4 linked regions of the Homo sapiens genome follow. The protein of the gene in region 2 interacts with the protein of the main gene of each other region in a biochemical or structural test. Each region holds a gene or a part of one and is shown on either strand. Other genes may lie near its edges.

Region 1 (7,799 bases), on a different chromosome or scaffold from region 2:
CAGAATCAGGAGGTAAAGGCTCAGTATTACCATCCTGCGCTGTACCTGAGATGCTTTTAACCTGTGACAATGGGACACCAAGCTCTGCTATAAATTTCACTCCTAATAACTGCCCTGATTTAATTAACTCATCAAGCAAATCTGATCTAACACGAACAATTTTAGAACTATAGATATAATTGAGAATTTCTGCAAAGATCTCTGCTCTTATAAAGCTCAGTTCAACAACTTGCCCAGCAACAGAGAAGAGCTGATGGAAGTAGGTACTAGAAGCTGAAAGAATATTCTTGTGAGCCCGGAATTTTCGGTCTTCCACAATAACGGTAACATCACAGAAGAGTCCATGGCCACGTTGCTCATTCAAGGAGTTCAGCAGACTGCCAGAGTACTGAATGTCTGTAGCAGAAATCAGTTTTCTACTCTCCATGCCTTTAAGAGAAAGAGAGGAGGGGATGGGAGAGGATTAGAGAGAAAAAACAAAAGTACTTATTTAGAATTTAAGCAGTAGCATCATTAAATAGTTTATTCAAGTTTTAACCAAAGTTCAGCATAATTTTTTGGCTTTTACAGAAATTGTTCATACAGGTTGGCTTTTGGAACAAGTGTCCAATTTCATGGCTTGCTCCTGAGTTGAGCAAGTTTTACATTGTTACAGAGATTTGAACAGTAATCTCCATAGTCACCTTTTTTTGAATATTAGATACATGCACCTCCACTAAGTGATTTTTAAAGATTAGAATTAATTTTCTTAGTCCCAATTTTGGGTTTTCTCTCCAAGAAGAGGTAAGAGTTGACTTTTAACTGTCAAAATTAAGGAAAATCATCATGAACACACAGAAGTTATTTCGCCTGTAAATGATTGAAATGTCAGAAAAGCTCAGCGCGTGCAATACTGTGTCTGAAATACATACTCTTAATTTTAACTAATCTTTAAGAATATATGCAGAATCTACACCCTGGAGCCAATGACATTTATAAACACTGACAATTATTACCTCCCAACGTCCCATTATTTTTCTGTTATTTAAATTGGGGTGCCTCATCTTGATAAACTATTAAACATCTTTCTTACCCTTTCCTCTTTCTTCATCCCCTTGTCCCTTCCCCTCATCTCTCCATCTTTACAATTTCCAGAGGTGGAATGTTAAACAGTGCCAAGTGAAGTCAACAGACACTATCATGAAAAAATATGACAAAGGAAAAGGAAAGTTTACCATTTCTAAATGCCCACTTCCAAGAAAACACGAAACATTTTATTTTTGTTGGTAAAGAATCATATGCATTGGTATGAGAATTTTTTCCACACCAAATGAGTTAGTGAAAATGAAAACATTAACTTATTGGAATAGACTACTCTAGAAAAAGGGGATGATGTCAGTAGAATGCATTGTTGTGTAGCACTAGCAAAACATCATTTTTTGCACTTTGCAGAAGATATTTCCAGTAACAAAGAGGCCAGAGTTTAAAAAAACCCATATATTAAAAATATATAATATCCATACATATTATATATGGATATATTTTAATATATGGATATTATATATTAACAATTAGTTGACAAGTACTTTTAGTGAAGAAATATTTTTATTAATATTCTCTCCCTTTGAAGTTACCAAAAGGGTGTCGATGTCACAATGCTTAAGTTATATACAGGTGGAGGGCAGTTCTGTCTCAAATACCTTCTAAATTTTTCAAAATGATACCTTAAGAACAAACAGCAGGCAAAAAGTCTAAAAATCAAGATTTAAAACATTATTAGAAGGTGTTGCATGTTAACAGTACCAAGGAATTCCAGGTTACCATAAAGGCATTCATCATCAGAAAGGGTGACCTTTGGACAGTTTGCCAAAAACCAGGGCTTCCGAAATACGGGCATTTCGACAGAAGTCGATATTAAGTGGAAAGACAGGTTTTCTGAAAACGGCACGCAATTTTTGTCATTTGCTCCCGGGTTCTTCCAATATGGGAATGCGTCAAATGTACGTGTCCAGGTGACACTGGGACTCGGTTTCGTTTCGTTTATGTGTCCCCCTCCTCCCACTCAGGGTGGCCCCAGAGACAGCACAAGTCGGTCTGAACCCACTCCGAAGATATGCGATTCGACTGTGGAAAAGCCATTCCACATCACTGTGAAACCCTTGACCGAGGGCCAGTTCGGAGGAGCTGGTGACGGTGGAAAGAGATAAAAGCCATCCGCGAGGGAGTGAAACAAACCGACACGCGGCTCCCTGCGGCAGCTGAACCTCATCTCCCTTCCTCCACCTCCCTCTTCCCCATATGGACCCTGCCAGCTGCAACCGAGGTTTTTAACCCCAATTCACGTGCAAAGCAAGCTTCTTGCAAATACAGACGGAGGTACAAACAGCAGAGTGAGGGCGGGAGGAATATGGGGTACCAGGGAAAGTAGAAGGTGGCGAACGGCAGGGTGGGGTGTTGGGGGGGGGATGAAGCGAAGCAGGCGGCATTGTTGTGCCCCGGGAAGGGGACGGAAGGGGAGGATGGGCCTGGCAGAAAAGCTCTAAATCAAAGTAGGGGCTAGGGGAGTAAAAGAGGCACAAAAAAGCAGCGAGAGGGGCGAGGGAAAAGCCAAGTGGGTCTCTGTGATGGATTCCCCAAGCCCCGGGGCCTACCCAGGGCACCGGCAGCCCCTCGGCCCCTAACGGCGAAGGGGACCGCGCCGCGGCCCTCGCGGCTCGTCCCCTCCTTCGCTCCCCGGCCCACACAAAGAAAGAGCCGGAGGAGCTGAGCCTCCGACTCTGCCGCTTCCTGGTTCAAGTGAGGCGAATGCAAACGCAGGCGCGGCCCAGGGACGGAGAAGGCAAGCGCGCTCCTTCGCCCCCTCCCTGATTGGGGCCGGGTCCTCACCTGCTTCCCGGCGCCGCCGCTTCTCCTCCTCCGGACGCGCGGAAGGCTGGGAGTCCCCCAACAAGAAGAAGCCGCACTCCCCAGCGATTCTGCCCCTTCTTTAAACGTCGCTCCAGTCTGGGTCGACGTCGACGCGGCCGCCGCCTCCTGCCGCCAACGCTGCTACAGCTGCCCCACGCCGCCGACAGAGGGCACAGCGCGGGGGCGAAGCGCTGAAGCCAAAGGCGCCCTCCTCTTCCGAGCGCAGGCCGGGGTGGTCCGGAAGGGCCCGAGCTTGAGGCGGCTCCACTTCGGCGCCGTGCTCTGCCTTCGGTTCTTTCCGCAAGGGGGCGGAGGAAGACTGGGAAGCTCTTGTGTGTTCGGCTCTTTCCGGAGGGCTAACGGGTGGGAAAAAAGGAAAGGGAAAGATCGGGTAAGACAGTCGCAAGCAATTGGATGGAAGGGAAGCGAGTCGTTTTCATCGAAATTCAATGTGAACTTCTAGGGCATACAAACTTTTAGAGACTATACAGGTTTCATTTATTTTGCAAGTTTGAATCTGCTCTATTAGACTGTTTGCTAGATGATAAACCATCTTGAAATATAATCAAAATACATACAATCAAATAGAAATTCACAACTTCTTATGGTAATTCAAGTTCTGGGATAACAAGAGAGCAACTACATTACAGTAACTACTTTTAAGAAAGAAATTTAGTGTTTGGACAACTATCTTCTTAATTGAATACTAAATGGTGCAGTACTATGTTAATTCCCTCATTCCAACTAGCATTTACTGACCCCCTGCTTGATCTGTAGCAAAAACCCTATGTTAGGCTCTCGGGAATACAAAAATGAATAACCCAAAGGTCTCTACCTCTTTAGGGAGCTCAGTAGGTAGGTACACAAACATGGACAAAAATATTTGTACAAGGTGTAGAAGCAGAGAGAAGAGAATAGCAAATTGAATGCTGTCATTTGACCTGTATCTTGAAAGATTAATAATATTAACACTTGCATTTTTAATTTTTTATTGTTACTATTTTAATTTTTTATTATTACTATTTCCATAACATTTCATCTTCAGAGGGCTTTAGTGTCTGACACATAGTATGTGTTCAGTGATTGTTTAATGACCGAAAAAATACATTGTGAGTTACATAATTTTTTAAAATCCTCTGGTAATACCCTTCCAACTGAGTACCATAATAAATGAAGCAACAGGATGGGTGTTTGGAGAGCAAAATGTTTCCCTTTTAGGCTGGTTATTGATCGTATTCAACTAAGGAACCAAATAGTAACTTTTTTTCTGCCATAATTAAGGCCATTCACTACCTTCATTATCTTTTTAAAAAGATATATATAGGATAATACTGCATTCATTTCCAAAATCTTAAATTTGTACCTATTAATACCTTGCAGTGGAATTCCTGTGCTTCTTTCCTAAAAAATCTTGCTGAAAATGTCCATCAGGATATTAGACTGAAAACAGATGTAACTATATCTAATTTTCTCTGACAGGAAATCAGACATGGATGTCATCATCTCATCTACCTATCCCTAATCTATTCTTCATCCTCCTCAATAAAGTAAAGCCACATGGTATAATAAAACATCAAAGTGGTATAATATAGCTGTATTTCACATGGAAATATGCAATTCCTTAAGCTCTTCTCCAAGATTTTGTATTGTGGGAAAACAAACTATGTGGGAATTATTGCATTATTGATTTTTGATTAGGACTTAGCATTATGAAAAGTTTCATTGTTTACTATAAAGATATTTCATGGCAAATAGAAGTATGCTGTTGTAAAATAAACTAAGGCAGATTAGTATTTTTCCTGGCAACTGAGTACTTAATAACCATTTTTCTGAGTTATCCTCCCCAAAACTTAGTAGTAAAAAAAAAAATCTTAGTAATTAGAACAAAGTATATCTTGAAAGTTTAGGATCTATTTATCTTTCAGTGGCTTAATTGATGAAAACTAAAATGAGACATATCTTTGAAATACAGATCACAGTGGCAATAGATGCCACTCTAGATATCATGTTTGTTGGTCAGCTCTCAGTAAACTGGAAGGCACAATGCAATTTATTTTGTACCAGCATTTACATCACTGAGGCTGGCAACAGAATTGCCATGCCATTGTCACTTTCCTGAAAGTATTTTAAAAGTTTGGAGTACCAACTAACATATGATGAAACCTGTTCATTCAAAGCACAGTAAACCTTCTCTTCCCTTCTTGCTGTATCTCTCACCCCCTAACCAAGCAAAAACTAAACAAGTTTAAAAGCTACCTATAATGAAAGGGGGTCCAATGGTCAGGAAAGGAATTTTATTTGTAGGAAAGCAGAACAGACCAAGAAGCCTGAGTGGCCTTAATAATTGTCTTTGGGACAGGATCACTGGAAAGTTTAATTAATTTTCTGTTTCTCAACTAGTCATTTCACTTTTACTTTTGTTTTTAATCTGGAGGGCTTAACCCTACTTCAAACAACCCAGTAGTTTGAACTCTATTTCAAACAACAACAACTCACTTTGGGAGGCCGAGGTGGGAGGATCACCTGAGGTCAGAGAACAACCTATATCAAATGGATTTGGAGGTATCAATTGTTTCACATTCTAGAAAGGTTTTATTGGCTGAAAATGGGATGAGTTAGGTTTTATAGCCGTATTGTCAGCGTTTGCTTGCCTTTTGACCTTGATTGTGAATTCCATGAGGGCGGTAACTGTCCTCTCCTGTGTTAAAATGCCAACAATCTTGTGGGTGCTTAATATATATTAATTGATGACAAAAGATAAAGTGACACTCGTTCAGTCTTAGAGCACTTCCTATATGTTATGCTTATGGTTACAGATTTGGTAAGGTCACTCCATGGGATCTGCAGAAACCCTAGTAAGGTAGAGTGGAAGAAACAAAGTCTTAAGCAGAAGATGTGAGTGGGTTGGAATTCTGATACTGCCACTTCCTAGCTCTTTGATCTTATGCCTGATTCTTCATCTGTAAAATAGGGATAATAATACCTTCCCACAGAGTCACTTTGAGGATTAAATGAATCAACTATGCATAGTGTCAAACTGCTCACGGTTTCCAGAATATGCCATGCAATTTACTGCCTTCAAGTCTGAGCCTGGAGCCCTGAGCTTGGAATAGTCATTCCCTTCATAGCCACACCTCGCTTAACCTGTTGTCTGGTTAGTTCCTGGCAAGTGCCTGGTTTTCCATAAAAACCCAACTCAAGTACTAACTTATTTGTGAAGCATCCCTTGGCCCAACAAATTGTAGATAGAGATGGTTGCTTAATGCTGAACGAATGAGTGTCTGGAACCCAGTAAGTGCCAAATATATGTTGCTTTCTCACCACTATCCCCTTTTCTGCTTAATCCCAACAAATCTCTCTTTAAGTGACCTGTCTAATACTGCCTATTGCCCTTTTTTCTTAAAACTTTCCAAAGTCAATTGGATAGGGATATATAACTCTCCTACTGGAAAAGGAGTCGTCGATAATTGCTAACAATAATACAATCTACCAAAAAAAGCAACAGACAGCTTATTCCAAACTTGAACAAAATTGAGGGAATATACTACCTATGAGTCATTTGTGAAAATTACTTGGCAATATATGAAGTCAAATCAAATAAGAAATGAGTCCAAATAAAGAATTAAGAATGGAGATTTTGCAGTAAGCCAATCTATTTAAGTGGAAGACTAAGTCCAAACAACAGATTGATTATGACTATGTGACAATGAAACTTATAAAGCCCGACACTGTAAACTTCATTCATTTTTTCAATACATATTAAACATATATCATTTAGTATTTACTCTGTGCCAGGCAGTGTTGTAGGCAGTGTTGTAGGCACTGTGGATATAATTATCATCAAGTTGAGATATTGGTCTTCATGGAACTTACATTATAATGGAAGAGACATACAATCAACATTTGTATATATATAATATAAATATATAATACAAAAACAGAAAGTAGTAAGTGCTATGAAGAAAAATAGAGCAAAGGGATAGAGAATGATGAGGGTGTTATTGTAAATTGTGTGGTCAAGCACAGCCTCTCTGAAAAGATGATGTATGGCCAAAGAATGGAATGAACTAAGGGAAAGGGCCATATAAATATCTGGGGAAGAACATTTTAGGCAGTGGAATGTGTCATTGCCCTTCAACCAAAGACTACCAGAAACATACCCATAGTTGACAGATTGAGTTTATTACTCTTACTCCAGGGAGGGACAACACACACTATAGGTAACTATGATGTGTTTCAATAAGAAGTTGTTAGAATGAACCTATTATAGGATTTGGACAATTTGGGGGAAGGTCTAGGAATCAGGAGTTCCGTCTCAGATACATCAGAAAGCAGGGGCAATTGTATGATTGCACATTTCAATAAATCTTATTTATAGGGAGGGCAGACTAGAGGGAGGATAAAGCTGTACATTAACTGGCAAAGTAGCAGTGACCTATCTTGGCCAAGAAGGGGTGTTTGGTGTTTTCTGGGTGTCACAGTGAGCTTGTTTTTGTCTGTGCTTAGACAAGCTTATGAAGTGGTCTTGTTTTGTCTCACTTGATCAGGCTCCCAGTGATCTTGTCTTGGGTTGGTGTTCTGTGAGTTTATGTTCAACAAGAGAAGAACATGCCTAATTGTGAGTGCGAGGTCAGTTTGTGGATATCAGGGGCTGCTCCCACTTCCCTTTCTCAAACAGCAAGCGAAAAGCCTTAGAATATAAGGAACAAGGCCGGGCACGGTGGCTCATGCCTGTAATCCCAGCACTTTGGGAGGCCGAGGTGGGAGGATCACTTGAGGTCAGGAATTCGAGACCAGCCTGGCCAACGTGACCAAACCCCGTCTCTACTAAAAATACACAAATTAGCCGAGTGTGGTGGCGGGCACCTATAATCCCAGCTACTTGGGAGGCTGAGGCAGGAGAATCACTTGAA
Region 2 (7,033 bases):
CAATACAGAGCCTGAAAAACCCAGAAAAGCATTACCATCTATTGATAAAGAACCACTGTTAACATTTTGGTGCATATCCTTTGAGTTTTTTTAATTATACATGTAACTATATCCTATTTTCCCTCTACTAAAATGGAATCTTAACATACTGCTTAATAGCCTACTTTTAAGCTATCTAAGCTATTCATTTTGTTTCCGTGTTTTTTTTTTTTTTTTTTTTTTTTTTGAGATGGAGTCTTGCTCTGTCACCCAGGCTGGAGAGCAGTGGTGCGATCTGGTATTATACCCAGGAGGCTTTTTGTTCCATGCATGGTATTTTATAATGTTAGTAAATACTTTTCCTTAATTTTATAGTAAGCAGAAAATTTTTATGGTTGGGGTGGATGCAAAAGTGATACATAATAGTTTAGAAGACAACCAATTTTGTTTTACCAGCTGTTTGGGCATTTTTAGTACCCCCTTCTTGATTTGAAGGGTTTAATCTTGACCTTTTTTTTTTTTTCTTCGAAATAGAGTCTCGCTCTGTCACTTAGGCTGGAGTGCAGTGGCACAATCTCAGTTCACTGCAACCTCCACCTCTTGGGTTCAAGCGATTCTCTTGCCTCCGCCTCCCAAGTAGCTGGGATTACAGGTGCCCACCACCATGCCCAGCTAATTTTTGTATTTTTAGTAGAGATGGTGTTTTTCCATGTTGGCCATGCTGGTCTCGAACTTCTGACCTCAGGTAATCCGCCCACTGCAGCCTCCCAAAGTGCTGGGATTACAGATGTGAGCCACCATGCCTGGTCCTGTTTCCGTGTTATTTTAAGACCATCTTGGTCATGGTTTACTAAATGCTTTGTCCATCTGAATCACTGTTGCATAGTTGATGTTGATACCTGTGAGGCAGGCCTTCTGCTCAGGGCAACCTTGAGTATTTGTTGACAGTGGGAGTGGTTTTGTAGAACAAACAATGGCTTATTTGGAGAGCTCCACACAATAGATTATCCTCTCCTGTGGGAGCCAGAAAGAGATGAGCTCACAGATAATGGGTTTCTTCCTTCCTGGTAGTTACGAATAAATAATAGTGTGACAGACTCACCCTCTAGTGGTTGTTGGTAGTACTGAAACAGGAAGAATTGTCTCCTGGTTTGATTTTTCTTACTTTCAATTGCTTTCTCTGTTCCTAGTGGCTGGGCTTCCCAAATGTGATGTTGGTGAATAGGCTTCATTTTGAAAGAGCTGGAGGTATTGTCTTTAGAAATTGGAGGATGGAATCTTACCTCTTAACACATTTGTTGAGTAGCAGACATGACCTTGGAATGACTGTGAAAATTACTTTTCAAGTTTATACCTCATCAGTACCAAAGCCAGATCCTCCTGTGATGTAGCAGGAAGCCCTTTATTAGTTTTTCTCTATCAATCCATCTTTTATAATTTCCAAAATAGGATAAGGAGAAGCTTAAATATGAAATGTATTTAAAGGTCTTATCCTACCAGTTGTTTCCTGTGTGTAAATGCCTAATTTCCTGTTTGGTTAAGGAACTGTTCTCAGACTTCTGTGGCATTGAGTCAGTTGCTTTGGTTAATTCTGTTCTCTGAGAGTTTATCCTGATCTCTACCTAGACAAGTTAATAACTGTCAGATATCATTCAAATAAATGATAAGTAGTAAGGATTTGGTTCTTTCTTTTTGATTAGCCTTTCCTGAATGCTTGTTACTTTCTAAGCCTGCAGACTTCAAAGAAAAAAATGTAGTTTTAATTAAATTGCAGGTGTTTTTAAAATTATTACCTTTTATTTTTACTAACCCATTGAGGAAAATTGATCAGTATATTATTCATGCAAAGGAGAGATAAGATGAGCACACTGAAACTCCAGTTAATCCTCCTTTGCAGATGAGGGTAATGGGAATGTCCAGGAAGCTAGCCATAATGACTTGATGTATTCTCTTGGTTCTTCCAAAACTTCTCAGGAGCTATGAAGACATGATTGGTGAGGAGGTGCCATCGGATCAATACTACTGGGCTCCTTTGGCCCAGCATGAGCGAGGAAGTTTAGCAAGCTTGGATAGCCTGCGCAAAGGAGGGCCTCCACCTCCTAATTGGAGACAGCCAGAGCTGCCAGAGGTGATCGCCATGCTTGGATTCCGCTTGGATGCTGTCAAGTCCAATGCAGCTGCATACCTGCAACACTTATGCTACCGCAATGACAAGGTGAAGACTGACGTGCGGAAGCTCAAGGGCATCCCAGTACTGGTGGGATTGTTAGACCATCCCAAAAAGGAAGTGCACCTTGGAGCCTGTGGAGCTCTCAAGAATATCTCTTTTGGACGTGACCAGGATAACAAGATTGCCATAAAAAACTGTGATGGTGTGCCTGCCCTTGTGCGATTGCTTCGAAAGGCTCGTGATATGGACCTTACTGAAGTTATTACCGGTGAGTTCTAGGCCTAAGGAAAATTGCTAAGTCAGTGTTACTCTCTAGTGATGTTGAGAACTAGAGGGATTTCCAGACCTTTTACTTTTGATGAAAGGTTGTGAACTGGTGGCTGTGGGTCAAATCCATCTCACAGATTTGTTTGGATCACACAGCATTATTGAAATTTTAAAGAACTGGTTGCTGATGTTTAAAATTCAGAAGATTTCACTTAAAATTCCAGATTCTTGGCTTCTATTAAAAACGTGGAAGAGTTGTTAACAATGGATCTCTTTTCTTCCTTAGCAGTATTTGGTCTGAACTGATTGGAGCATGTGCTCTCTAATTTACACTAATCTCCAACACATTCTATTATCTGACCAACTACAGCTGTTTAGGAAGTTGTTTCCCAAACATGGAGCTGTCAACTGCTATTTTTTCACATGCTTGTAATTTCTTTTAATTATCTTCCTCTCTTGACTCACCGGCTTGACCCATATAGACATTTAAGCTTGTGGTTCTTGCTTTATTTAGAGCAGTAGTTTTTCAGATTGTGGGTTGTGATCTATTTGTGTGATCCGTTAGTGAATAAAACAAAATTTTGTGGAGCATAATCAGCATTCCAAGGGAAAGGAATAAAGAAAAAGTAGTATAGACCATTGTTTCTCAGTTGTGGGCCATTTTGCCTGCCCTGCCCTGAGGACATTTGGACATTTGCAGTGTTGGAGATATTTTTGGTTGTTATAACTTGGAACAGGGGAGAGGGAGTGCTACTGGCATCTAGTGAGTAAAGGCCAGGGGTACTGGTAAACATCCAACAATAGACAAGACAGCTCCTCATAACAAAGAATCATCTGGCCGAAAATGTCAGTGGTGCTGAGGTTGAAAAACTCTGGTATAGACAGATCGGAGAGCATTGAGCATTGCTTATAGTTTTGTTTGTTTTTTTTGAGATGGAGTCTCGCTCTGTCACCCAGGCTGGAGTGCAGTGGCACAATCTCAGCTCACCGCAAGCTCCGCCTCATGGGTTCACGCCATTCTCCTGCCTCAGCCTCCCAAGTAGCTGGGACTACAGGTGCCCGCCACCACGCCCGGCTAATTTTTTGTATTTTTAGTGTTAGCCAGGATGGTCTTGATCTCCCAACCTTGTGATCCGCCCGCCTTGGCCTCCCAAATTGCTGGGATTACAGGCGTGAGCCACCACACCCAGCCTGAGCGTTGCTTATAGTTAAACATTGTTTGTTTCATGATCTGTATGTTTATTTTGAGCTATAATGTAGAATATGTTTCTTGGTGAGGGTCGCAAACAAAGCTTGAATATTACTATAAGGTATTTGGTCACTGGGGAAGACTGAGAAGTGATACGATAGGGGGATTCTCTTTGACGTTCTTCAGACATATTGTCTTGAATGCTCAAGAGCCATCTGATGAATTGTCTCTTCCAGGAACCCTGTGGAATCTTTCATCCCATGACTCAATCAAAATGGAGATTGTGGACCATGCACTGCATGCCTTGACAGATGAAGTGATCATTCCTCATTCTGGTTGGGAGCGGGAACCTAATGAAGACTGTAAGCCACGCCACATTGAGTGGGAATCGGTGCTCACCAACACAGCTGGCTGCCTTAGGTAACAGTAGGGACTTTGAGAATATGAAGATGAATTTTTGAGGACTGACTTAAATTTCCTAAAAAAAAAAAAAAATTAAAATTCTTTAGCCTATTCTTTAGCCTCCATTCCTATCTGTATTGCATACTGTAACTCCAACCTTTCTATCTTTGTTGCTATTCTCTCATGTATACCACATGTACCTATATCAGTTTTCTTGCTGTTCCCCACACATCCTCTTCACTTTTATGCCTCTTTGACTTTGTTCATCTACTTTGGTAAGCTTTTGTTCAGCATCTACCACATGTAAGGTGGTCTAGTCCTGGACTTGTGTGTGTCTATGTCCTTGCCCTAGTTATTTGTATTTCAAGTCAGGCTGTGATAAATTCAGCAAAAGGGGTACAGAGTACTAGGAGGTTAGGGCATGGGTGAGGAAGGTCTGTTCTTTCTGTGATGCCTTTCTCTTCTTATTTATCTTTTTGTGGTTAAACTCAAGTGCCTTTATTTTATTAAAGTTTTCCTGAATTCTTTTTATATCCTATAAATGCTGCTATATAATCTTTCTCTCTTTGGAATACACCTCTGTGTGCTGTGTTCCATTCTACATATGTATTATATACTTCCATACGAGAAGTATATATTCCATCTTGAATTACTGCATCTGGTACATATCATTAATCCCTACCCCACAGTGATATAAACATTCAGAAGGCAGGGACTGTTAATCAACTTTCTCTCAACTGCAGTACCTTGCTTATAATAGGTATTTACTATTACAGTGAGTAGAAAAACATATTCAGGAATCTTGTAGGTGTTGAGGGATATTTAAGGGAGGATTTCTGGATTTGAGTCATCTTGAAGCTTCTGGTTTCCCCTCAGGAATGTAAGCTCAGAGAGGAGTGAAGCTCGCCGGAAACTTCGGGAATGTGATGGTTTAGTTGATGCCCTCATTTTCATTGTTCAGGCTGAGATTGGGCAGAAGGATTCAGACAGCAAGGTAAGTGCTGTCTTACCTTTAATGGCTGAGTGAATTTCATTCACCACAACTATGAAGTATCTGTAGGTCAGAGACCTATCATCTCAGGCTTTCAAGTAACATTAAATATTTATACTGTCCCCTACCCCTTATTTTTGAGACAGAGTCTTGCTCTGTTGCCCAGCCTGGGGTGCAGTGATGTGATCTCAGCTCACTGCAACTTCTGCTTCCTGGGTTCAAGCGATTCTCATGCCTCAGCCTCCCAAGTAGATGGGATTACAGGCGTGTGCCACCACACCCAGCTAATTTTTGTATTTTTAGTAGAGACGGGGTTTCACCATGTTGGCCTGGCTGGTCTCAAACTCTTGACCTCACGTGATCCCCCTGCCTCAGCCTCCCAAAGCATTGGGATTACAGGCGTGAGCCACTGTGCCCAGCCAAGCCCTTACTCCTTAAAGTGGGTATTCAACTTAAAACATGTTTTTTGTTTGTTTGTTTGTTTTTTTGAGATGGAGTCTGGCTCTGTCCCAGGCTGGAGTACAGTCCCGTGATCTCGGCTCATTGCGACCTCTCCCTCCTGGGTTCAAGCAATTCTCTGCCTCATCTCCTGAGTAGCTGGGATTACAGGCACCTGCCACCATGCCCGGCTAATTTTTGTGTTTTAGTAGAGACAGGGTTTCACCAGGTTGGTCAGGCTGGTTTTGAACTCCCGACCTCAGGTGATCCACCCGCCTCGGCCTCCCAAAGTGCTGGGATTACAGGTGTGAGCCACTGTGCCCGGCTTTTTTTTCTTTTTTTTTTAAATCTGTCACCTATGTATTTTAAAGCTGCTTAGCTGTCTTCCAAAATTGTACATTGTCTAAGTAGTAAGAATGATGATCCAATTTCAGTCACACACCAAATAGTGGCAGAAGCCAATAAGTCCATAGTTGGACCTTCCATTAGCCTGAGGCTACCGGGATTTCAAGAAGCCTGGAGCACTTAAGAGGCATCCTGAGAAGTTATGGATTGGGTTATGCATTTGAAGATCAACATTTTAATACCTGAGTCATGGAAACCTGTACTTGTGGAGAAATCACAATAGACATTCTTTTTTCTCATTGGCCCTTTTATGTCCCTAAGCTTGTAGAGAACTGTGTTTGCCTTCTTCGGAACTTATCATATCAAGTTCACCGGGAGATCCCACAGGCAGAGCGTTACCAAGAGGCAGCTCCCAATGTTGCCAACAATACTGGGCCACATGCTGCCAGTTGCTTTGGGGCCAAGAAGGGCAAAGGTGAGTCTTGGTTCCTGTTTCTTAGTCTTTAATGTGGGATAGGGAAAGGAAGGAACACTTTAGCTTAAGGTACAAAATACTTGGCAACAGTATGGGAGTCTGCCTGGTTATGGATGTCTTTTTGGTTTGCTGCTTTCCCTGTGTTGTGTGCTTCATTCAAGGTGTGGTGATGGGATGGTGGTTGTGATGTGTTGGTGGTGGTGGTGGTGGTGGTGGTGGTGGTATCAATGAGTGGGGCAGTGGAAAATGAGAACTCAACTAATCTGGGACCTTCTTCCCCATACGTCCTTTGCATTTTCTGTGTTTTTCTTTTCTTCTCTGTGCTTCCCTGCTTATTTGCCCATGATTCTGCTGACATCTTTCTCCTGCATTTTTCTTATTTCATTTCTCTTCTCTGCTTTCTACCTTGGGTGATGCACTGGAAGATGAGTGGTTCTCCAGAGGTGAGTGGAGTCTTTTAAGGTGCTTATCTACTTCTAATTTGCATGTTTTGATTTTAGCTTCCCTAGTATGTCCTTGCCTAACCTTTCCCTGTCTATGCATGTAGGAAAGTTCAGTTGAGGAAGACACTGAAACAAGTTTAGCTCTTTGGAGCTAATAGCTCACGGCATGCTGTTTCTGGGCAGCAGTCCCCATTATCAGAACTCAGGACAATAGCATCAACAGTGGTCATCCTCATCTTACCTATCTGCTGCCTGTTTTCTATCCTTGTTTCTGAATAGTCCCCTGCTGGAACAAGTTGCCCTCACCTGCCCCTTTTCCCCTCGTGGTGCATCT
Region 3 (7,033 bases), about 13 Mb from region 2:
TTAGCTGGGTGTAGTGACAGGTGCCTGTAGTCCCAGCTACTCAGGAGGGTGAGGCAGGAGAATCGCTTGAACCCAGGAGGCAGAGGTTGCGGTGAGCTGAGATCACACCATTGCACTCCAGCCTGGGCAACAGAGTGAGACTTCGTCTCAAACAAAAAAAAACAAAAAAAAAAAGAGAGAGAAAAATCAGCTTGGTGTGGTGGTGCATTCCTGTAGTCCTAGCTACTCGGGAGGCTGAGGTGGGAGGATCACCTGAACCTGGGACACAGAGGTTGCAGTGAGCTGAGATTGTGCCTCTGCACTCTAGCCTGGGCCACAGTGCAAGACCCTGTCTCAGAAAAAAAAAAGAAAAAAAAGGCTGGTGGGGGGCTTTTAGGCGCGGTGGTTCGTGCCTGTAATCCCAGCACTTTGAGAGGCTGAGGCTGGCAAATCACTTGAGGCCAGGAGTTGGAGATCAGCCTGGACCAACATAATGAAACCCCATCTCTACTAAAAATACAAAAAATTAGCTGGGTGTGATGGCGCATGCCTGTAATCCCAGCTACTCGGGAAGCTGAGGCAGGAAAATCACTTGAACCTGGGAGACAGAGGTTGCAGTGAGCCGAGATCGCGCTGTTGCACTCCAACCTAGGCAACAGAGCAAGACTGTCTGAAAAAGAAAAAAAAAGTTATTGTGTAGAGGAATTTTTCACTCTGTCTAGACAGCAAGATTACTTCACGTTTGTGCAATCTTGATTTGTACACTGACGTTTGCAAGGAAGGTTTAATGTTGAGGATGGACAGAGTCATTATCTTCTTTTGAACCGTATTGTAACAGCTTTATCGAGATATAATTCACATACCATACAATACGCCTGTGTAGTGTGTACTCTCCACTGGTTTTTAGTATCTTCATGCAGTTGTACAACTGTCACCACAGTCAATTTCAGAATAATTTTATCACCTCAAAAAGAAGCCCTTGTACCTTTTAGCCATGACCTCCCTATCCTCACCACCACCATCCGCCCAGCCCTGGGCAACCAGCAATGTATCTTTTGTCTCTGTAGATTTGTGAACTCCAGACATTTCCTAGAAATTGAATCGTATAATATGTGGTCTTTTGTGCGTGGTTTTCCTTTGCGCAATGGATTTGAGGTCCCTCCACGCTGTAGCAGGTGTCACTGCTGGATCCTCTTTGTGGCAGAATAAAATGCCTTTGTGTTAGGTAGACCACATGTTATGTATCTATCAGTTGATGGACATTTGGAGTGTTTCTGTTTTTTGGCTGCTATGAATAGTGCTGTTCTGAACACTCACGCACAAGTTTTTGTGTGCTTATACTTTATTTCTCTTGGGCATAGACCTAGGAGTGGAGTTGCTGAGTCATACAGTACCTGAGTTTAACCTTCTGAGGAACTGCCAGACCTTTTCCATTTAACATCCCTGTCAGCAGTCTATGAGGCTTCCAGTTTTTCAACACTGTTGCTGAGATTTGTCATTGGCTGTTTTATTTTAGTCATCCTAGTGGGTATGAGGTGGGTTCTCATTGCAGTTTTGATTTGCATTTCCTTGGTGGTTAATGACATTGAACAAACTTTTCCTGAGCTTGTTGGCCATTTGTATATCTCCTCTGAAGAAATGTCTCTTCAGATCCTTCAATCATTTTTAAATGGGGTTATTCGTCCTTTTTATTGAATTATAAGAGTTCCTTTTTTTTTTTTTTTTTTTTTGAGATGGAGTCTCACTCTGTCGCCAGGCTGCAGTATAGTGGCGCAATCTCGGCTCACTACAGCCTCTGTCTCCCGGGTTCAAGCAGTTCTCCTGCTTCAGCCTCCCAAGTAGCTGGGACTACAGGCATGCGTCACCACGCCCTGTTAATTTTTGTATTTTTCGTAGAGACGGGGTTTCACCATGTTGGCCAGGATGGTCTCGATCTCTTGACCTAGTAATCCGCCCGCCTCGGCCTCCGAAAGTGCTGGGATTACAGGCGTGAGCCACCTCACCTGGCCAAGAGTTCTTTATATATTCTGGATCTACAGTTCAAAATACTTTTCTCTCAGGATCGTCTTGTCACCTTCTTGATGAAGCACAAAATTTTTAATTTTGTACAATTTATTTTTTTCCTCTAGTGTTTTGGTGTCATATCTAAGAAACTATTGCCAAATTCAAAGTCACAAAAATTTACACCCTTTTAGGATTTTAGTTCATTTTTGAGTTAATTTTTCTGTATGGTTTTGAGGTAGGGCTCTAGAGGCTTTTTATCTTTGGATCCACAAAACAATCAAACTTATTTCCTATTGGTTATTTTTGTGATTGTTTTTTAAATTTCCAATATTGAGAGTATAAAATTGTGGATCTGAGCCTATCCTTAGCTGCTCATGAGTAGATTTTTATTATTTACTTTATGATTGATTTATGTATGAGACAGGGTCTCTCTCTGTCTCCCAGGCTGGGGTGCAGTGGTGTGATCATGGCTCACTGCAACCTTGAGCTCCTGGGCTCAAGCAGTTCCCCCACCTCAGCCTCCTGAGTAGCTGGGACTACAGGTATACACGACCATGCCTGGCTAAATTTTTAGGCAGAGTTGTATAGATGCTTGCCGATTACACTAATAACTGCAGTAACCAGAATGTAGCAAGCAATCTGTAGAAGTTAGGATTGCCGAAGGGAACTGGGGAGAGAGATGGAGCAAACAGTTGGGTCAGAAACCAGATAGGAAATTAATTAATTACCAGGAGGGCCAGCCAGGCACCATCCCCTAGTTCCTAATGCGTGAGAAACCACTCTGCCTGTGACCGGCTTGTTCCTAGGGACAAGGGGATTTCATTCGTCCATGTGTGTTGTCTAGCAGTATGGTGTCCAGTTGAGGCTGATGTGTGGTCCTAGGGAAGGGGTCGTGTGCTTGGCCACCCTCTGGGGAGCTGGAGTCTTGCTCCCTGCGCGGTAACCGTGTACGTTCATTAGGAATGCAGCCCGCCTCCTCCTCGGCTCTCCAGCTGCCAGTCTCATGTCTTGATAGACAGTCACCATACTGGTTTTTCCTCCCGGCCATATCATGATCCTCTCAAGGAGTGTTTTTCTTATATTATTGTTTTAAAAAGCTCACAGTAACAATTTTATTTTATAATGTCATTAATTAGAATGAATAAAAAGTGAAAATCTCTAAGAATTATGGCAAACAGTAAATGCATACTAGCAATTAAGGCAATAATTTCTGTTTGCATTCATAAGAAACATCATGTAGGCCGGGCGCCATGCCTCACACCTGTAATCCCAGCACTTTGGGAGGCCAAGGCAGGCGGATCACCTGAGGTCGGGAGTTTGAGACCAGCCTGACCAACATGGAGAAAACCCGTCTGTACTAAAAATAGAAAATTAGCTGGGCGTGGTGGCGCCTGCCTGTAATCCCAGCTACTTGGGAGGCTGAGGCAGGAGAATCACTTGAACCCGGGAGGTGGAGTTTGCGGTAAGCCGCGATTGTGCCATTGCACTCCAGCCTGTGCAACAAGAGTGAAACTCCATCTCAAAAAAAACAAAACAAAAAAGACAAAAAGTCATCATGTAGTTAGAAATCTTTTAAAACTTATTTCTTTAGTTTCTCTCTGTTGAACTTTTTTATTAGTAAAATGCAAGTCTTCCCATCCTCCTCTCAGATTTCATTACAAAACCTTGTTACGTTTGGGAAGATTTCTGAAGTTTTCTAAAAAGATCTCCACACAGAAGGGTTTGCCCAGGGAGCTGCTCAACATACATCCTTCTCAGCTTTTTACCCTTAATCTTTTTACAGACGGAATCAGTCCCCAATGCCTGGAAATTCCTCATTGGATTACTGTGTTTTAAACAGAATTTCGTGAACAGCCTTTTATCTCCAAGCGGAAAGAAAGGTACTTGTGCATTGTGAACATCCTAACATTCTTTTCCTGTGGATGGTAAGGGCAAAAATCCCTTTAACAGGAAACGGGGGAGGTTGCTGTTTCTGTGGATTTACTGGGAGAGAGATGATAATATTCTGGAAGGAAATTTCATTGTTTAAAAAATAAAGTCAGGTTTCTGTTGCATATGACTTAGAGGAGACAATTGCAGAAAACTCTGGAATTGAGGAAGAGAACCATTCCTGTCCTCCCTGAGGGGAAATCTGGCCCCTTCCCCACCCCATGAACATGGGTGGGGCCCCCAGGCACAGGATTGTGAAGCTCGCAAGTGCCCACCCCGCTCGCTGGTGAAGCTGTGTCCGGGAAGATGAGCAGAGACTGTGCTCTGCTAATCTCTCCCCGATGAGCCTGAAAAAGTACCAGGCAAAGACACCTGCCGCCTTTCTCCTTTGCCTTGGGGGTGAAGGTGGCCTCGCCAGCCCTGCAGGGACTCCCATCCTTTCTTGCAGCCACCTTCTCAGTGGTGGGAACCATGGGCAGCTGAAGTCCTGCAGGCGGGCAGCCCCCTCGCCAGGGCAGCATGGTGCCATGGGGCGGCCGGAGACCAAGCATCCCGTTTCTCTTTCCTGCAGCCGTTGCTTCATTTATAAATGGGCGCGTTGGGACAAGATGGACTGGTTGTGCCTTTCCGTTCTGAGATTCTAGTTCATCTGTTTTCTAAAATCCTGGCAAAAGCAGATCACTCTGGAAATTCTTGCCATGCTTTGGGCATTGACAGAAGGTTCCAGGGGCACTGTTAGTCCTGCTACACCCCTTGGCAGACGGTTCTTCCCCAAGAGACAAAGTCGCACCTAGAAATTTGAGAGCACGCTGCCCTGATTGGTCCCTCACTGTCACATTGGATTTGGACTTGAGACCCAGCCAGGCTGGAGGGAGAGGAGCCAGATGGGACATTCTCAAGCTGCGAAGGGGTTTTGTCCAGTCCTGATTCAGGGCGCTAGAGTCCCAACATGGCACCTGAGAAAAAGTGAATTGGGTGTCCTCAGTTCAGACCCCTGGGCACAGCTTATGGTTGTTTGATTTAAAATAATCTCTCAGTTGCTCTGTGGCCTATGTGTAATTGTATTACTATTTCTGTGGAAAAGGAATCACTTCTTTTTATACATAGTTTGAAAAAAAAAAAAAAACCTTAAAATTTTATATTTTACCACTGCAGTTACAAGAATTGTCTTGTTAGGGTTTACAGATGTGCCATTGTTCTGTATAACAGAGAAAACCTTCCAGTCTTCAAGGGCTGAGGGAGAAGGTGGCTGCCCACTTGCAGAGCTGCCTGATAGAGGAAAAGGTGGCATTTTATATTCCTGTTTTCTTCCAAGTAGAGAGTAAAGCAATTCTCCAATAAACTACTTGAAACATTTATTAAATTGTAAGTCTGAATTAGGAAAATTATTGTTATGGTTTCAGTAAGCACTTGAAATCAAAATGGGTGCACTTTTTAAAAATGTGTGATAAAATACACATACCATGAGATTTACCATTAGTAACATTTAGTATATTTATAATACATAATCCAAAATGGTGCTTTTATTTTTGGTTGGAAACTATCATCATATGATTGAACAGAACAGGAATATGTTCTTAATGAATAAATAAGTGCACACACGACTTTTTTATTTTCCAGAAAATTTTCTCACTCAAGGTGAAGCCAAATAGTATTTCCAGTATATTTCTGACGTCAGGTGACGGCAGTGTTAGAACCCCGAGGTGAAATTTCTTTTACTCCTGTGGTTGTCAGTCAGGCTTATGGATCATGAAGGATTGGCTGGTCCTGCAGCCTCGTCCTCCTGGGTTGCCTAGAATCTCGGTAGTTTTGGCCAAAGGGCTCATCTGCTGGCCTCTGTGGATGGCGCCCTGAGGCCTCCGTAACCCTCCCCGGCTGCTCTTTCAGATGTGGAAAGCTTCAGCAGGCCACGCTGTGTCCATCGCCCAGGATGACGCGGGGGCCGATGACTGGGAGACCGACCCTGATTTTGTGGTAGGAGCCGCCAGCCTTTGCTTTCCTCTTTCATGAAGTGGAAGTGGCTCTCCTGGGTTTTTCTTTGATGGGGTGGTGGTTTGTCTGTGTCACAATCCAGGCTGTGAGATTTACTGGTCGCTTTTCTTTTCAGAATGATGTGAGTGAGAAGGAGCAAAGATGGGGTGCCAAGACGGTGCAGGGCTCCGGGCACCAGGAGCATATCAAGTAAGAGGCGTCGCCACCACCCTCCCGAGGGCCCCTCTGCGGATGGAGCCCCAGGTGCAACAGGGCCCATGGTCATCTGTGGAGGGACAGCCCGTGTGGAAACTGCATTTATCTTCTTGACCTGATACCCATGCAGTAAATGAATATAAGACACACACATATATGTGTATTTGTGTAATGTGTGTGTTTATATGTGTATATTTAGATACTTCTGTGCTCAGTAATTTTTAAATTCCCATTGCAAACAATTTCCGTATTTATAATTTTAGAGTGTCCGCTTCTCAGTATTGTGGCTTTTATCAGGGAACATTTGTCCCTAAGCTCTACCTTACAAGCGAGAGGTTTCTAAAGTATGAGATGTCTGAATAACTGAGACCTTAAATGCCCTGTCCCTTTTTTTATTATCTGGAAATGATTATGTGTTAATAGTGAGGTACTGTGAGCTTTGTGTTCTTATCGAAAGCCCAGAGTTGGGCACTGAGTGAACCCTGTCATTGTTTCTCACTTGGCACTATCTAAAATGCCAGCTCTTGGGGCAGTTTTTTTTTTCGTCAGAAAGTGTAGATAAAAGGAACTTTTAAAATATGCTCAGACTTTTATTTTAGGCCACGCTGGGTTCAGAGTGGATCCTCCTTTCCCTGGCTGTGAAGGCAGCACCACTGACCCGGTGACCGCCTCAGTATCCCGGGAAGACTGTCCCGCTTGACCACGGTCCCTTCAGCTGAGAAAGATTTAGTCCTTCCTCCAGAAAAGAAGGCACAGCCTGCACAATGGCTTTTTATTTTGTTGTTAAAGATTTATTTATTTATTTATTTATTTATTTTGAGACAGGGTCTCACTCTGTCACCCAGGCTGGAGTGCAGTGGTGCAATCATAGCTCACTGCAGCTTTGACTTCCTGGGTTCAAGCGATCCTCTCACCTCAGCTTCCTGAGTAGCTG
Region 4 (4,074 bases), on a different chromosome or scaffold from region 2:
TTGTTCAGCTCGGTGTCCTTCAATGCACTCTGATTCTCTAACCCTTTAAAAACTGTTCTCTCAGCAAGTCTTAGGTTGGCCTGAGGCATAGAGAAGAGAGATATTATCCCCCGCAGACTGAGGGGAAACAGAGAAAGGAAGACGATGCTCCAGTTAGCAAGTCTCTGCCATGGCCCCTGGCCTGGCTGCCCCACAAGGTCAGGGCTCACGCCCCATGGTGCAGGCTCATGGCTGAGCCTCCCCGGCACCAGGGCAGGCCACCGTGAAGGGCTCAGTGCTCTCACTGACGAACACTCTCTCTCAAAAAAACTCTACTCTACTTGCTCCGGCAAACAGGCCCCGGCCGCACTCTCTCCCCCTGTGTGCTGGCGTGTCGGGTGCGGCCTCCACCGCCTGTGCACTGGGACACCAGGAACATGCCACGGCTGCTCACGGGTCATCATTTATTGAGATGAGAATTCACATAAAGTAACATCATACAGAAAATCGTTTCCAGGCCTTAAGAAAAATGATTGTCACTCACTGTGCTTCACAAAAATTTCTTTTAATGAATAAATAATTTGATGAAATCAAAAATATTTACAATATAAACACATGGAAAAGCTCTGGGTCCGTGAATCTGATCGTTGAGTTTTGCATTTTGTGAACTGAGTCCTCCCCCAAGCTTTTCCCTTGGAAACAATACAAATCTGACAGAAACGACGACTCATACAACATATCTTTGTTCATTACACATTTATCTGTTAGTCCTGGAAAGCTACATAAGCATATATTATGCAACATGTTAAAGTACAAATATTACCTAAAATAATATATTACCATAATGCCAGATAGCATTCTCCACAGAACAAAAACATACACTCAGCTGTAACAATAACGAGGGTCACGGGCCACAAAATAATACCCCAAAGGTACAAATTCCTTCATAAGAATATAGTTGTGCTCTTCAGTTTACCAGCTGTCTACGCTGCTCTAGGAAGCCGGTGGCAAGGAGTACGGGATTTGGCAACTGTGGCTGTGTGTGTGTTTCTGTCAGGCAGCAGCATTACTGGGATTGGGCAGTGCAAGCAATTTTAGAAACACTTTCTTGGGCTCTTAAAAAGAGCCAATTATGCAAAGCAAAATAAGCATATTGAGAAGTCTTCATCTCTTTTGCACAAATACCATGGAACGTCTTGGCTTTGTGGTATGAAAGGGATTGTTTGCAGAGCTGTTTACACCATCAGCCAGAATTCAAGTATTCCAGGGCCACCTCGTAGCAGAACTTGTACTGATCCTGGAAAACAGGAGGGGAAAGTGTCAGCTCAAGAATATCTCAACGCTGTTCCTAGTAAAGCAATTACCATAGAGTAGGGTCTTAATGGGAAGACATCAATCTGGGAGGATTTGAATTAGAAATGAATCAGAAAGTCACGGTTCTGAACTCCAGATACATTCACTGTTTGGAGATGCTCCCCACAATGCTGGGTGGAAGGTATTTTGCTACCTGTGCTGGCTAGAATTCCCGGAAGGTTCTGGACACTTGGAACTCTAAATATGTTTGTCCACACATGTATTTTCCAGGATATCAACATGCTGAGCTTTGTGCAGGAGGGTCAGGGGTAGAAGAGAAAGTAACGAGTGCTTCAGGAAATGCCTTCCTGACATCTCTCACAAGGCCCTTGGTACCTAGATGAGGCCTCATGCATGATCCAGCTTTACCTTTGACTTTCAGTCTGTGGGAATTCCTCAATCTCATGAGAATTTCATAAGCACCTCCTGAATACCAAGCCCCTTGACCTGGTCCCTGATTTTGAGAAGTCCGTGATCCAGTGAGGAGGATGAGACAGGTAACCCAATGACAACACATGAGGTGGAATGGTCCCTATGCTCAGGGGACGGCAGGTCTTCTTAGGGAAGATGGCAGTGGGAAGTGGACAGCGCCTTCCCCAGAGGACGGAACTGATGCGTGGAGTGGAGGCAGCCTTGGTTTGCCCTGGACGGTCCTGGCTTCTGCCTGTTGTCCTGGCATAACCCTCTTTCACTCTCAAAGTGCCCTAGTTTGGATAAAGTACGTGGCCATCCTCACCCGTTAATTAAAACAGGCATTCCAGGCGGAGGCAACAGGACGAGGAAAGGTACAGAAGGGGAAATGTTTGAGATCCTCTGGGACCCATAGACCAGTTCTTCATCAGACAGGGAATTAATTTCTCCCTCCTTTCTTTTTTTTTTTTTTTTCTTTTTAAGAAACATGGCCCTTTGTCACCCAAGCTGGAGTGCGGTGGTGCAATCATGGCTCAACACAGCCTCGAACTCTTGGGCTCAGGCAATCCTCCCACCTCAGCCTCCTAATTAGCTGGGATTATAGGCACGAGTCACCACATCCAGCATTGGATTCATTTTTCTTGAGCTCAGCTTTCCTGGATCGTGTACCTTGGCCCAAGCAAGCTCTGCACAAGGTCCTGGCTGAGGTGTGGTCTCGGGTGGCCGGGGAGAGCATTCTGCACCTGTATGCATGGAGTGTGCTGATAGAACCAAGCCTGGGAGTGGTCTCTGAACCCAGAAGAGGGACGCAGGGCTTGAGGAAGCCTCTGCCTGCCACCTGGCAGGAGCCCGGCCCTGGACAGAGCCTTAGCAACTGGAAGGCTCTCTTCTACTTCTGGAGCAGACAAGCTTTCACATGTGTGAGCGAGGTTCAGCACCACTGTCTCTACCCATCACAGCCACAACCAAGGAAATGTATCTATTACTTTTCATTTTGCCAAATTAATTGAAAACGTCCAGTATTTCTTAAGTGCCTCCTAATTTGTCACTGAAATTTCCTTTTCTTCACCTACACTCTGTTTTGTAAATACCCTAGTAGTCCAACCTATTTATTTGAGGACAAGGGACACAGTTTATCTCTCTTTGTATAAAGTAACAGTCTCTAGCCCAGAACTGACACAGTTGAGAGTCAAAGTCGGCTACATGTACACATGATGACAAGCCATGGGTCCAGCAGCATGTGATCCAACTCAATACACATGTACTGCTAGAGACTGGGGATTTTATGACACATTCAGTCCTCGGGAAGGTCATGATCCAGAGGCGAAGACAGAGAACAAGAAGATCATTTCAATCACTGACGGTGCCATGAGATTAATGTCAGTGGAATAACATTCACGAGAAGGCTCACATAACAAGAAAATCGCAGGTGTTAGCGAGGGCGTGGAGAAAGCGAACCCTCATACACGGCTGGAGGGAATGTCAAACGGTGCAGCCACTTTGGAAAACCGTCTGGCAGCTCCTCAAAAGGTTAAACACAGAATTCCCATATGACCTAGCAATTCTACTACTGGGTGTACACCTAAGGAAACTGAAAACATACGTATACACAAAAACTCTGTAAACAAATGTTCACAGAGCATTATTCCTAACAGCCAAAAAGGGTAAACAACTCAAATGTACATCAATAAAATGTAGTATAGCCATAAAGTGGAATATTACTTGGCTATGAAAAGGAATGAAGTACTAATCCATGTTACAACGTGGATGAACTGAAGCATGGATGAATCTGCTGAGTGAAAGAAATCAGATTCAAAAGGGCACACACTCCTTTTCTATGAAAACACCCAGCACATGCAAATCTATAAAGACTGGAAGCTGAAGGGTGGTTGCCAGAGCCTGGAAGTGGGTAATGGGGAGTGGCTGCTAGTAGGTCTAGGATTTCTTTGAGGGGGCTAAGTGGGTGATGGAAATGTTAAACATTTGGTTTGTGGTGATGGTTGCATAACTCTGTGAATACACTGAAAACCAGTGAATGACACACTTTAAAAGGGGATTTTTTTTTATTTGGGGTACATGTGCTTGTTTATTACATGGGTATTACACATGTAATGGTGGGGATTGGGCTCCTAGGGTATTCATCCCCCAAATGAATGTTCATAGTGCATTACACGGCTGGTAGGAATGCAAAACACTGGAAACTGATTACAATCGAATGTTATACCCAACAGGTAATTTTTCAACCCTCCCTCTCCTCCCTGCTCTTTTGGAGTTCCCAGTGTCTATTATTTCCATCTAAAAGGGGAAATGTTATGGCATGCAAATTATATT

The links.
Region 1: the proteins of CTNND1 (region 2) and ZBTB33 form a complex in vitro, tested with the Homo sapiens proteins (one study listed by BioGRID).
Region 3: the proteins of CTNND1 (region 2) and CTTN form a complex in vitro, tested with the Homo sapiens proteins (one study listed by BioGRID).
Region 4: of the proteins of CTNND1 (region 2) and PTPRM, one has a biochemical effect on the other in vitro, tested with the Homo sapiens proteins (one study listed by BioGRID).

What each region holds. Positions count from the first base shown.
Region 1 is NC_000023.11:120,246,044-120,253,842, reverse strand, and holds the start of ZBTB33 (transcriptional regulator Kaiso), read right to left. Parts: upstream 3,032-7,799; 5' UTR 2,866-3,031; intron 2,411-2,865; exon of another isoform or gene 2,187-2,410; coding exon of another isoform or gene 2,046-2,186; intron 1,175-2,045; 5' UTR 1,073-1,174; intron 430-1,072; 5' UTR 428-429; coding exon 1-427. UniProt on the Homo sapiens protein: Transcriptional regulator with bimodal DNA-binding specificity.
Region 2 is NC_000011.10:57,799,780-57,806,812, forward strand, and holds part of CTNND1 (catenin delta-1), read left to right. Parts: intron 1-1,953; coding exon 1,954-2,417; intron 2,418-3,841; coding exon 3,842-4,025; intron 4,026-4,883; coding exon 4,884-5,001; intron 5,002-6,102; coding exon 6,103-6,256; intron 6,257-6,681; coding exon 6,682-6,699; intron 6,700-7,033. UniProt on the Homo sapiens protein: Key regulator of cell-cell adhesion that associates with and regulates the cell adhesion properties of both C-, E- and N-cadherins, being critical for their surface stability.
Region 3 is NC_000011.10:70,401,499-70,408,531, forward strand, and holds part of CTTN (src substrate cortactin), read left to right. Parts: intron 1-3,766; 5' UTR 3,767-3,863; intron 3,864-5,799; coding exon 5,800-5,886; intron 5,887-6,019; coding exon 6,020-6,093; intron 6,094-7,033.
Region 4 is NC_000018.10:8,403,311-8,407,384, reverse strand, and holds the end of PTPRM (receptor-type tyrosine-protein phosphatase mu isoform 1 precursor), read right to left. Parts: exon of another isoform or gene 3,788-4,074; intron 1,277-3,787; coding exon 1,223-1,276; 3' UTR 529-1,222; downstream 1-528. UniProt on the Homo sapiens protein: Receptor protein-tyrosine phosphatase that mediates homotypic cell-cell interactions and plays a role in adipogenic differentiation via modulation of p120 catenin/CTNND1 phosphorylation.